2 separate regions of the Homo sapiens genome follow, and region 1 is linked to region 2. Evidence: fine-mapped expression QTL. A gene starts in region 2. The other region holds a variant in brackets. All regions are shown on one strand. Distances are between the middles of the regions. Region 1 overlaps CHRDL1 (chordin like 1). Region 2 holds the start of CHRDL1 (chordin like 1).

What was found. PIP is the estimated chance that this variant, and not a neighbour inherited with it, causes the effect.
Region 1: its variant is the best candidate, but not a certain one, in a credible set for the expression of CHRDL1 in sun-exposed skin (GTEx, PIP 0.56).

Annotation. Positions count from the first base shown.
Region 1 is chrX:110,726,077-110,731,458 of GRCh38, forward strand. All of the region lies in intron 4 of CHRDL1 (chordin like 1), which reads right to left. Among named protein-coding and RNA genes, the nearest start is that of CHRDL1, 67 kb to the right of the region's middle. The variant G/C (reference allele first, on the strand shown) is at 2,828.
Region 2 is chrX:110,792,970-110,798,351 of GRCh38, forward strand. CHRDL1 (chordin like 1) reads right to left here and starts at 2,848. Exons shown (of 12, transcript NM_001143981.2): 1 at 2,775-2,848.

The DNA.
Region 1 (5,382 bases), 67 kb before region 2:
AAGGCCTTGAAAGAAACCCCTAGAATAGGATGCTGTTTCTATGTGCGTATCTCACAGTGATGCAAGAGAAGATAACTGAGCCTGGTCTCTGGGGTCTGCAAACATTGGTCTCTGGGGTCCCAGCTGCTATGATCTGAATATTTGTGTGCCTCTGAAATTCATATGTTGAAATCGTAACCCCCAAGGTGATGGCTTTTAGGAGATGGGGCCTTTGGGAGGTGATTAAGTTATAAGGGCAACATCCTCATGAATGAGATTAGTGCTTTTAATAGAAGAGGCCTGTGGGAGCTTGTTCGCCCCTTCTACTATATAGGCTCACAGGGAGAAGGTATCATCACTGAACCAGAAGCCAAGCCCTCACCAGAGAACAAATCTGATGGTACCTTGATCTTGGATTTCCACCTTCCAGAACTGTGAGAAATAAATTTCTGTTGTTTATAAGCTACTCAGTTTGTGGTGTTTTGTTATACCAGTTCAAACAGACTAAGACACCAGCTTTGGCATGTCTTGGTTCTGTGATCTTAGGAAGGCTTGAGTATGCCTTCTACTTTACGTGGCTGTGAGGTTCAGCGATAATTAATTTTAAAAAGCCCAAAGGTATCTGGTACATAACATTCACAATAAATGGTAGATGATCTTGCTCTAGAAAGAGGTCACAGAGAGGAAAGCAGTAAAGTTGAAGAATATGAAGGAATTTTCCCAATTTCCATAGATGATAACTAACTGAAAGGCATTTGCTTTGCACTGATGTGTATGGTAGGTGCTATGGAGACATGAGTCAAAACACTATTTCTCTCTTGTTTTCTTATTCATTCAACAAGCACTTGTGGAGGTCTTTGACTATACCTGGCACTAATAGATCCTTGACTATACATTGACAATACCTGGCATTATGTTACCTTAAAGCTACAAAGATAAATAGGACATTCCCCTGACTTCAAGTAAAATCCTGCTTTCATTGGAGGGGAAGGCACAAAAAGGTGTTAAATGATAATGTATTTAAATAACACATAAAGGTTCATAATGGAAGAGAGGTCAAATAATCACAAATTGCCAATGTTAAGTGGGGAGGAGTATCAACTGCATCAATAAGGATTCAGGTTAGATACTAAAAAAGATTCCTTGCTGAAAGAGTTATTAGAAACTGGAACCACAGGCCAACTAGGCATGTAGGGAAATTATTTTCAAACTAGGTTCTGTGCTGCTTTAGGATTCTTCAGAGGTACTTGAGGGATGTGAAAAAAAAAATCCCTTCCCCATTTCTACTTCAACAGAATACCTCTTACTTTGTTAGTGAAATGTGTTTTTATTAGCTTTTTTAAATTTCATTTGAAGAAAGAGTTTGCTGCCATAAGACACTGTAAAACACTGGAATAGAATCTCTTCACATATTTGCTGTTTGGGGATTAAAATCCTATTTGTCCCTAATATATAAAGAGCTTCTATAAATTGACAAGAAACAGATTCATAACCCAATGGTAAAAATGGAAAAAGGATATAAATAGACAGTTGACAGAAATGGAACTACAAGTGGCCCTTAGACATGAAAAAATCAACCTCATTCATTAGAGAAATATAAATTAAAACTGCAATGAAATACCATTTTTCTTAGCAGATTTAGAAAAATCCAAAAGTTTGAATAAAACACTCTCTTGGTAAGTCTGTGAAGACTTGATTAAAACATGATGAAGGGCAATTTAGCAATATCTGTTCATTTAAAAATACATATATATTTGACCCAACAATCCTATTTTTAAGAATTCATTCTACAGATATACTTGCACATGTGTGAAACATATAAAAATTATTCATTGCAGCATTGTTTGTAATGGCTGAATATGGAAACAACTTCTATGTCCATTGATAGAAATCTGGTTAAATAAATGATGGCTCATTATTATAACAAAATATTATGTAGTTCTATAAAAGAATAAGTTCTCTGTGCACTAATACAGAAAGATATATTATTAAATGATGAAAACAAGGGGTAAAATGATGTGCACAATAGACTACCTTTTATGTAAATGAAAAAATATTTTTAAAATATATATATATATTCATATTTGCTTACATTTTCATAAAAATCTGGAAAGATATATAACCACTAAAAGTTATGGGGGGGAACTACATGTTGTAGGGAGAAGATAAGAATTGGGTGAGTGTGGGACGGGGTGAATAAGATATTCTATTGCATTCTTTTATATGTATACCTAGATATATAATCATATATACATGTACATATACATATGCATTCATATTCTTGAATGATATAAATGTATTCCTCATTAAATTTGAAGACTACGTTTGAAAAAACTTCTACTTGAAGGCCGTAGACTAGACTAGGTGAACATTTTGGGTCCATTCCAACCATAGAAAATCAATCCTACAAAGCTGGTCATCAGAAGCCCGGCTGTATTCCTACTAGTGGGAGAGATCCTAGCTATGACTTTGTGTTCCCAGTCTTATTCCAATAATGGGTTCTCTCCACCGACATCATTGAGCCCGTCCATCTGGGCAAAGTGGAGGTTGTTACATTGCTTTCTTAAACAATGTTAAAGTAATTGTGTAAATCTGAGCTGGCTTTTAGTCCTTGGCCCAAATGGAAGGAACATAGACAAATAAGGTTGCTAGTGGGAAATCACCCATGGCCTTCTACCAGAGCACTGCTGTAATGGAGGGAGGAGCAGCTGGGAGCTAGCTGCATCTCAGTCAGGCAAAGTAAGAGCATACATCCAGGATGCAACACATCTTGCAGGATGAATGTATCAAAAACAGTGGGCTGGGCACAGTGGCTCACACCTCTAATCCCAGCACTTTGGGAGGCGAC[G/C]GCAGTGGATCACCTGAGGTCAGGAGTCCAAGTCCAGCCTAGTCAACATGGTGAAACCCCGTTTCTACAAAAAATTAGCCAGGCGTGGTGGCGGGAGCCTGTTATCCCAGCTACTCTGGAGGCTGAGGCAGGAGAATCGCTTGAACCTGGGAGGTGGAAGTTGCAGTGAGCTGAGCTTGCGCCACTGCACTCCAGCCTGGGCAACAAGAGCAAATCTCTATCTCAAAACAAAAACAAAAACAAAGAAGAGTGGGTGTCTGCAGCCTCCCCCCACCTCCAAAAAGTAACAATGCTCATATTCTGAGGCTATGTGGATTCAGACGACATTTTCCTTGGGATGCTCCCTGAGATCAGAGGTACTGCTTCAAATGGGCCCATCAGTTGAATCAATGATGCCTACCTTTAGATTTCTTTTTTTTTTTCAGCACTTCAACTGCCATCACTTCTTTTTCCCCTGGGCCTCTTGATGTGATGACTTAACTAGATCTGCTTTCCTCGGGTAGAGTCCAACGATTTCTAGATTTTCCCCAAACTCTCCTCCCCCATAAGAACTTAACTCTCCTGTGGCCCATCACATTGAGGTCATGCTGGCAGGCCTTAATACTAATCCCGTTAAGTAATTCATACTGAAATGAAAATGGTAGATAATGTTTTAAAACAGGGTCCTTTTCTAGATAATTATATTGTAACATAGGCCTTTGATGTTTTATTCATAATGAGGCTGTAGAGCACCGGGTAAAGAGTGTGAAACTTTCTAGAACTTAAGACCTGAATGAGGGAACTTGCTAAAAATGCAGCTTCCAAGACCTGTCCTAGGGAGAGGAGAAGCCTTACTTCAGAGTGTCCCATTTGGATTCAAATTAAAGCTCCATTGCTAATTATTGCTTATTAGCTGAGCAAATTCTTAGCATCTCTGAGTCTCAGTTTCTCCATCTATAAAATTGGGATGATAATGGTACCTACCCCATAGGTTGTTGGGATGATCAAACAAGGTAAGACATAATCTGTTCAGCATAGTACCAGGAACATATTAATGCCCAATAAATGCAATTGTTGTTCTTTTACTACTAGCTATAAATGATAGGGTTTCTGGAGGGCAGAAAGCAGGCTGGTAGGGAAAGAGATGTGGGGCTACTTAACCCTTACAGTGGCCATCCTCTTACCACACTGGCAGACCCTGCCTCTGTATAAGGCTTATGCTGAACTCCAAAGTAGCAGTGACATTTACTTTTCAATCAGTATTATATACTGTAAATTTTAGAAATTCTCAACACCTGTAATGTAATGACAAGGTTTGTTTTTACCCCTGTGCAGTCTTTCACAGCCCTGTAGAACTTCTCAAAAACTGTCAGATCCCAAGTGGTAACTAGAGATTCACTTCTGAGCCATCACATCCACTAAGAATCCTTTTATGCCCCAGCTCCTGGGCAAACACTATCTGCCCCATTTTCCCATCTCAGTGGGAAGACCGTCAGGTGTGATTTAGCCAAGCAGTTGCTTTCTAGCCAGAGCCATTTACCAAGCACATAGACTCTACTTTGGACTTATTGAGCACCCCAGACAGGTGGATTTACGCTCAGAAGGGTCACAAATGTATTTGTGATTATGAGTAGTCCTAAAGGGCATGGAATAGAGAGAAAAAGTGAACTCCTTGGCCAACACTCCCATTGTATTTTATTTTATTATTATTATTTTTAGAGTTGGGGTCTCACTCTGTTGCCCAGGCTGGAGTGCAGTGGTGTGATCATGGCTCACTGCAGCCTCAAAGTCCTGGGATCAACTGATCTTCTTGCCTCAGCCTCCTGAGGTGCTAGGATTACAGGCTTGAACTGCCATGGCTCCCACCGTATTTTAACCATCATTTCCAGTGTCCTCTCCTGCAACATGTTTTCCAGAATTGCTAAACAAAAGTAATTGTTGATTGGTTTGACTTTCATCTTTGTTTTAGGTCACTACTGAAGGTGCTTTTCAGAAAGGATTTAATATTTTTTAGTTTAGGAAGCCTCTCCATTTCCCCCTTCATACATCCTTTGGCCTCCCACCCTTCGTTGCCCAGCTCTTGTCTTGCCTTTTCAAGAAAACTTCACTTGATTACTTCTGCACTTGATGGTCTCTTTGTGGGAAGGGAAAGCAATCAATAGAGCAGATTGCTTCTGCGATGGTAGAGCTTCCAAAGGTGGCAAGTTCACCATGTCCCTAAACTCTCTTCCTCTCCACCCTGCCAGAATGCCTGATATGCCCCCAGATTCAATCATTAGTTAGAGAAGGGCCCTATCTTTCCCAGAGGTTTAATATCTTCACAGTGATGAATACACAAGACTGGAACTATTCCCCAGTAAAGAGAAAGGCGCTATTGGGGGGAATCCTACAATGAGATACCATTTCACATCCACTAGGATGGCTATAATAAAAAAGACAATAATAACAAGGGTTAGCAAGTAGGTGGAGAAATTGGAACCCTTATACAGTGCTGGTGAGAATGTAAAAAAAAATAATAATAGTACAGCTGCTTTGGAAGATAATCTAGCAGTCTCTCAAAAAGTTGAGCATAGAGT
Region 2 (5,382 bases):
ACATGAGATTGGCATTCCCAGTATAAGGGGTAGAAATCTTAAACCTTTTGAACCTTGGAACACAGAAAGTTTGCTGTAGCTCACATCTAGTCACGGATCATTTCCACAGATGTTAGAGTTTGCAAAATTCCTCCAATGGGTGATCTGAAAATATTGAAATGTTCTAAAAACACCAGATTCAATCTGAATGGGAAATGAACTCATTGATCTTTCCAGAAAGTCCAACCTAAATATTGCACATAAAGAACTTGAAGGAATGCAAAACGATCATTTTGGAGAGTTGAATATCTTTGGGCTCTGAAGTAGATGCTACAGCTCCTACTTAAATGCTATGAAGTTGCCTGGGTCATTCAAAATCCACTGTTTCAATTATGAATGCATAACCAAGGAAGAACTGATGATAGAGTAATCTGTGCTATCAAACAAGATTTGCAGCACCGTCTGCCTTCCTTCTTTACCTCCTCCCTGCTCCTTAAAGAACCAAATTCTCTCAGGACATGTTCCTACCCATCTAAAGACCTGAGTTCTGATGTCTTGGTCCCCTCTGTGAGTTTGTGGCCCACTTACAATCACTCAGAATGTTACTGTCCCTTGAGGGCTACCACGTTTATTCGAAACAAATCATTTTCATTAACAATTTAACACAGCTACCCACCTCAGTGAGGTTCTTCCTGAGCCTATTCTAATAAGTTTATTCCCCAAGCCTCCAAAAGAGAAAGATTTTTAACCACTGAAATCCAATTTATCACATTCATATATGGATTTCAACGGGTGTTTCTGAAACCATGGTTTTAGGGTCTCCCCATGCGAGAATCAACAGGGCTGCTTTTCTTGTATAATGGTTGGGCGATTCGGTGAACTGTAGCATTGCTTCATAACTCAAGTTGGCAAGAAAACAGCTCATAGATTTTTTTGCCTTTCTTAGGTCCCAACTAATATTATGAGCAAATAAAAAAGTTGGTAACTAGAGAGCAATTAATCTCCTTTGGCGTTCCTGTCATCTGTGTGGCCTCCCAGGCTGTGATGGAGAACATCAGAAAATGAATCGCTTTATAAATATTCACTTTTGATTTACAAGATCCTGAAGTCCTGCCTTTGTATTCTGTGCAGAAATATGAACCAAGAAGAGTTCCCTCCCCAGATCTCCTCACTGTTCAATTTCTCTTTATCTCTTCAGCTTTTTCTTTTAGGGAAGGGGGTGGTTCAAAACATGTGTTGGGACTGCAGCAGTAAACACTAGCAAGCATTGCTCAGCGAACTTAGCCGACTCTTATTCTTGCAAAGAGCCAAACTGTCCTTAATTTTTCAAATTATACTTTGACCCAGTTAACTGGAGTTATTTCTGCATTAACTCTCTGTCTGCTTCACACAGGCTGTTGTGCCATTGAACTTGCACTGGCTCTTTTACAGGTTACTTAGACATGTAGCCATTGACATGCTTCAGGGGATCCAGGACCCAACAAGAAAGCAACAACAACAACAAAAAAACAAAACCCTGCAACTAACACAGGTAGTGGAGGTGGGATGGGAGAGTTCCTGTGTTTTACAAGAGAAAGAGAAATGTATCAAGTACCAAAAGAAAGGTATTTATTAAGGTGCTTCCATGAAACAAGCATTCACATTGTTCATCTGCGTTAAGCAAAGGGACCAACTGCTCCTTGCCCAGCTGTGACTGCAAGGCAATCTGGGCCATCAAGTGTCAGGAGCCCACTTTCAGAACAGGTCTCCTGGGTAGAACAGAAGCAAAGAGACATCCCCACAGGAAGGCTAAGGGATGAACACATGTCAGCCAGTTCTTCACGCCCCACAGTGTCTCTTTAATCCTCCTGAGAGGCTTGACTGACCTTGTAATCTCACATTGACTATCATCTGTGGGACAGCCCCTAGGGTAGCAATTTTCTTTCCGACAAACAATAAGAAAGACACTGGAGTCCCAGGCCCTTGTCCATCAGCTGAAATCCTCTCCCCACTCTACCACCCAGCAAGAAAAGTTCAGTTAACTGGTGGTGTGTTGCCACTGAAAATGGCAGTTTTAACCCAGGGTATCTCTTGTTGGAGGAAATGCTTTCATTGCTGCTTATGACTGACAAACAATGCCTCGCATTTGGCTTGCAAAACACCTTTCTATCATTTCATTTCATTCCACACAACTCCACCTTCAAAATGGGCACTGGGGGGACCCAGAGAACTCAAATAACTTTAGTGGCAGGGCTGGGAGGGACTGGAAAGCAGGCTTTCCGGGCCCTATGTTCTGGCAATATACCACGTTGCTTCCAGAGCCTAGTGTCTCAAATTCTGACCCCCGTAGTCAGGGACAAAAAATGAGGCAGATGGCCAGAGGATAGGATAGGGAGCCTTTCGCCCATCTACCCTGCTACATTAACTTTACCATGTATTCATCAGCAAAATGAGAAAACAGGCTCAGGAATACAGGCAGTGATTAAGGGGACTGCAGAGTCCCTTGGGTAGCTCAGGGTGGAGTACCTAAGTGACCTCTCAAAGCGCCAGAGCATAAAGAAATGCAGGCCGAGTGGGGAGGGACGAGCTGTGAGTTCGAATTCAGAGACCCCCAACTTGCTTTGGTCAGAAGCCTTGGGCCCCACCTCCATCCAGGTTGCTAACTGCTGGAGCACAGAACAGGTTGGGGTGGCAGGGGAATTTGGGGCACCCTGGGGAAACTTCCAGGGACGGCTCCGGCCAAGAGAAGGCAACCCACCTGTGCAAAGGCTGGAAAAGGAGGTGAGGGAAGCGGGCGCCGGGCACTGCTCACTAACCTGGGCACTGGCCTTCTCCGTCTGCCACGCGTGCACGCGCTCCGAGCTCCCCGGGGCGCTCTCGTCCGAGGTCTGGGGCTGGCAGGTTGTGGCGAGAGCTAGAGTGCGCGCGAGGGGGGAGGGGGAACTCAAAAGTGGGTGGGAGGAAAAACATCACCGCCCTCACACCACGAGGGAGCAGCGGCTTGCTCGGCTCCCGGGGGCAGAGCCAAGGCGCGGGCGCGGCGGCCCGGGGCCACCTGCCCGCCCTCCCGCTCGCTCCCCACTTGGCCCGAGAAGCCGGCCGCTCGGCGCTGGCGGGAAGTCCGCAAGCACGCAGCCGCTGCAAGCACGCACACTTTCTCCACCCCGGCACAATGGCTTTATTTCTGCTCCCCCGGCCCGAAAGTTTAAAAATCGGGAGAAAGTGTGAGACTCAGCCGGCTACTTTCCCATCACACAGCGCCCCCACTGCAGCCCCCACTCCTTTGGCTAGGCGAGCGTTGGGGTCTTAAAGGGACCGCACAGCTCCTCCGGTCCCTCCTCCCCCTCTGCACTGGATGCACCTAGGAGCTCCCCACCACTCGCGCACGCCCTGAAGATACCGACTACCCTCTGACTCCCCTGCCTGGAAGCCCACACCCGCTCTCCTCCGGCACCAAGGCCTTTCCGAGGTGTGCACCTGGTCTGGTACTGAGCTGGTGCCCTGGACACAGAATGAACCCTCCTCGCAAATCACGCCCTAGCATGCTGCTTATCATTTCACGGCGTTTCCCATATCCACACTGTGGCTAACAGAGTGACAAAGCTTTGGTTTGGTGTCCTTAAAGGCGGGGTGGAGATGGGTGTGTGTAGGGTCAGGGATTAGAAATCCACTTTCTCTTACAAACTGGGCTCCCAAGCCTCATGGAAAGGGCCTGTTCTAACTGTTAAGTGTCTTGAAGAAAACTTGGTGCCACACACTATACCCACCATTTTTTTTTTAAATGAGTCCCTAAGCTTCTAAGTTGGGCCAAGAGCTCAACCTGGAAATCACAGTAGCACTGCTGATGCCTTGGTGGGCCTGCCTACTCCAAATTTGTGTTTATTCAACAAGTGATAGTTGCAAAGAATTGTCAGAAACTTCTAGGGTCCAGGAAAGTGCTGCCTCGACAGACAAAATTTTAAGCCCCTAAATTTGGAGAAGAACCGCAGAGCTTTTTTCTAGATGAACTAGATAAATATCTATATTCCTAACATCTGTATAGTACTTTATGGCTTACGGAGTGTTTTCACATACATCAACATTACTTTTTAAACCCTCAAAACCAACCGAACTACCTGAGGTCTCAAGTGTTAGAGTTGGTGGGGAACTTCTGAACCATTCAGCTTAACTTCATCATTTCACAGAAGAGGAAACTGAATTGGGGGAAGAGGATGATGTATCTAAGGTCACACAGCTAGTAAATGACAAATTTGAGATTCCAATCCAGATTCCCTGACTTTCAACCCACTACTCTCTGGTTGTTATCTCCAGTCTGTAGATGAGGAAATTGATGTTCAGAGAAACTGTGGCTTGTCAAAAAAACAAACAAACAAACAAACAAACCACTTATCAGGAACAGAAAACAAAGAAAAATTAAAACAAGAATAATTGTCCCTGAACGTTACCTCCTTTTGCTTTTTCAGAAGTGTTAATAGTATCCAGCTAGCCCCTGCATTGCTGGTGATGTTTATTTCACTGTTAACAAAGGAAAGGGGGCCCTTTCTGTAATGTTGCCTTCAGGGCCCAAAATGTCTAGCTCCGTCCTGCTGCCTGGGTAGCCATACACTGCCACATGCATTCAATTTGTGCTGTTGTATATCGGTTTGAACTTGCTGATTTGTTGCCTTATAACTGTTCTCATGCCGTTTAATGCAGTGATGTTTTGTCTTACTAGATTGTGAGTTCTTCAAGGGCAAGGACTGGTTGTTCAATTTCTCTTGTGCGTGCATTACCCAACTCCCATCATTACTTCCAACATGCTTACAGAGTATTCTGGAAAATGAGTTTCAAGGGATAGTCTGAGACAAACATAAATTCTAGCATTTAAAATAAATAGACTCACTGGGATTTAAAAGTTCATCTATTTGGCTACAACCACTCACTCCCTTGCTTGGTGTAGAATCCTAATTACTGCATAACAAACCATCCGAAAACCTAGTGGCTTAAAGCAAGCAATTATTCTCAATTGGTTCTATTGAGTTGATTCTATTGAACTTGCTTAAGATCTCTTATGCAGTTGCAGGCAACTGTATATGGGGCTGCTGGAATTCTCTGACAGGTTTTTCATTAGTGTAAATGTTAGTCATCCTTGTATTTTGTATTAGTTCCAATCTTGATTTCTGAATTGAGAACTCCCATTTGGGTGAGTCCTAATCTAGACATCCTACCAGGTCTTATAGAAACTTAAGTGATGATTACCTTCATGCTTTATTTTCTCTGTTTATTAAATAGGGATGAGAGCATAATCTCATACTCATTTTTTAAAAAGTTTTATTTTAAGATAATGGTAGATTTACATGCAGTTGTAAGAAATAATTCAGAAAGATCTCAAATACCCTTCACCTAGTTTTCCCCAATGATAACATCATTCATAAATATAGTACA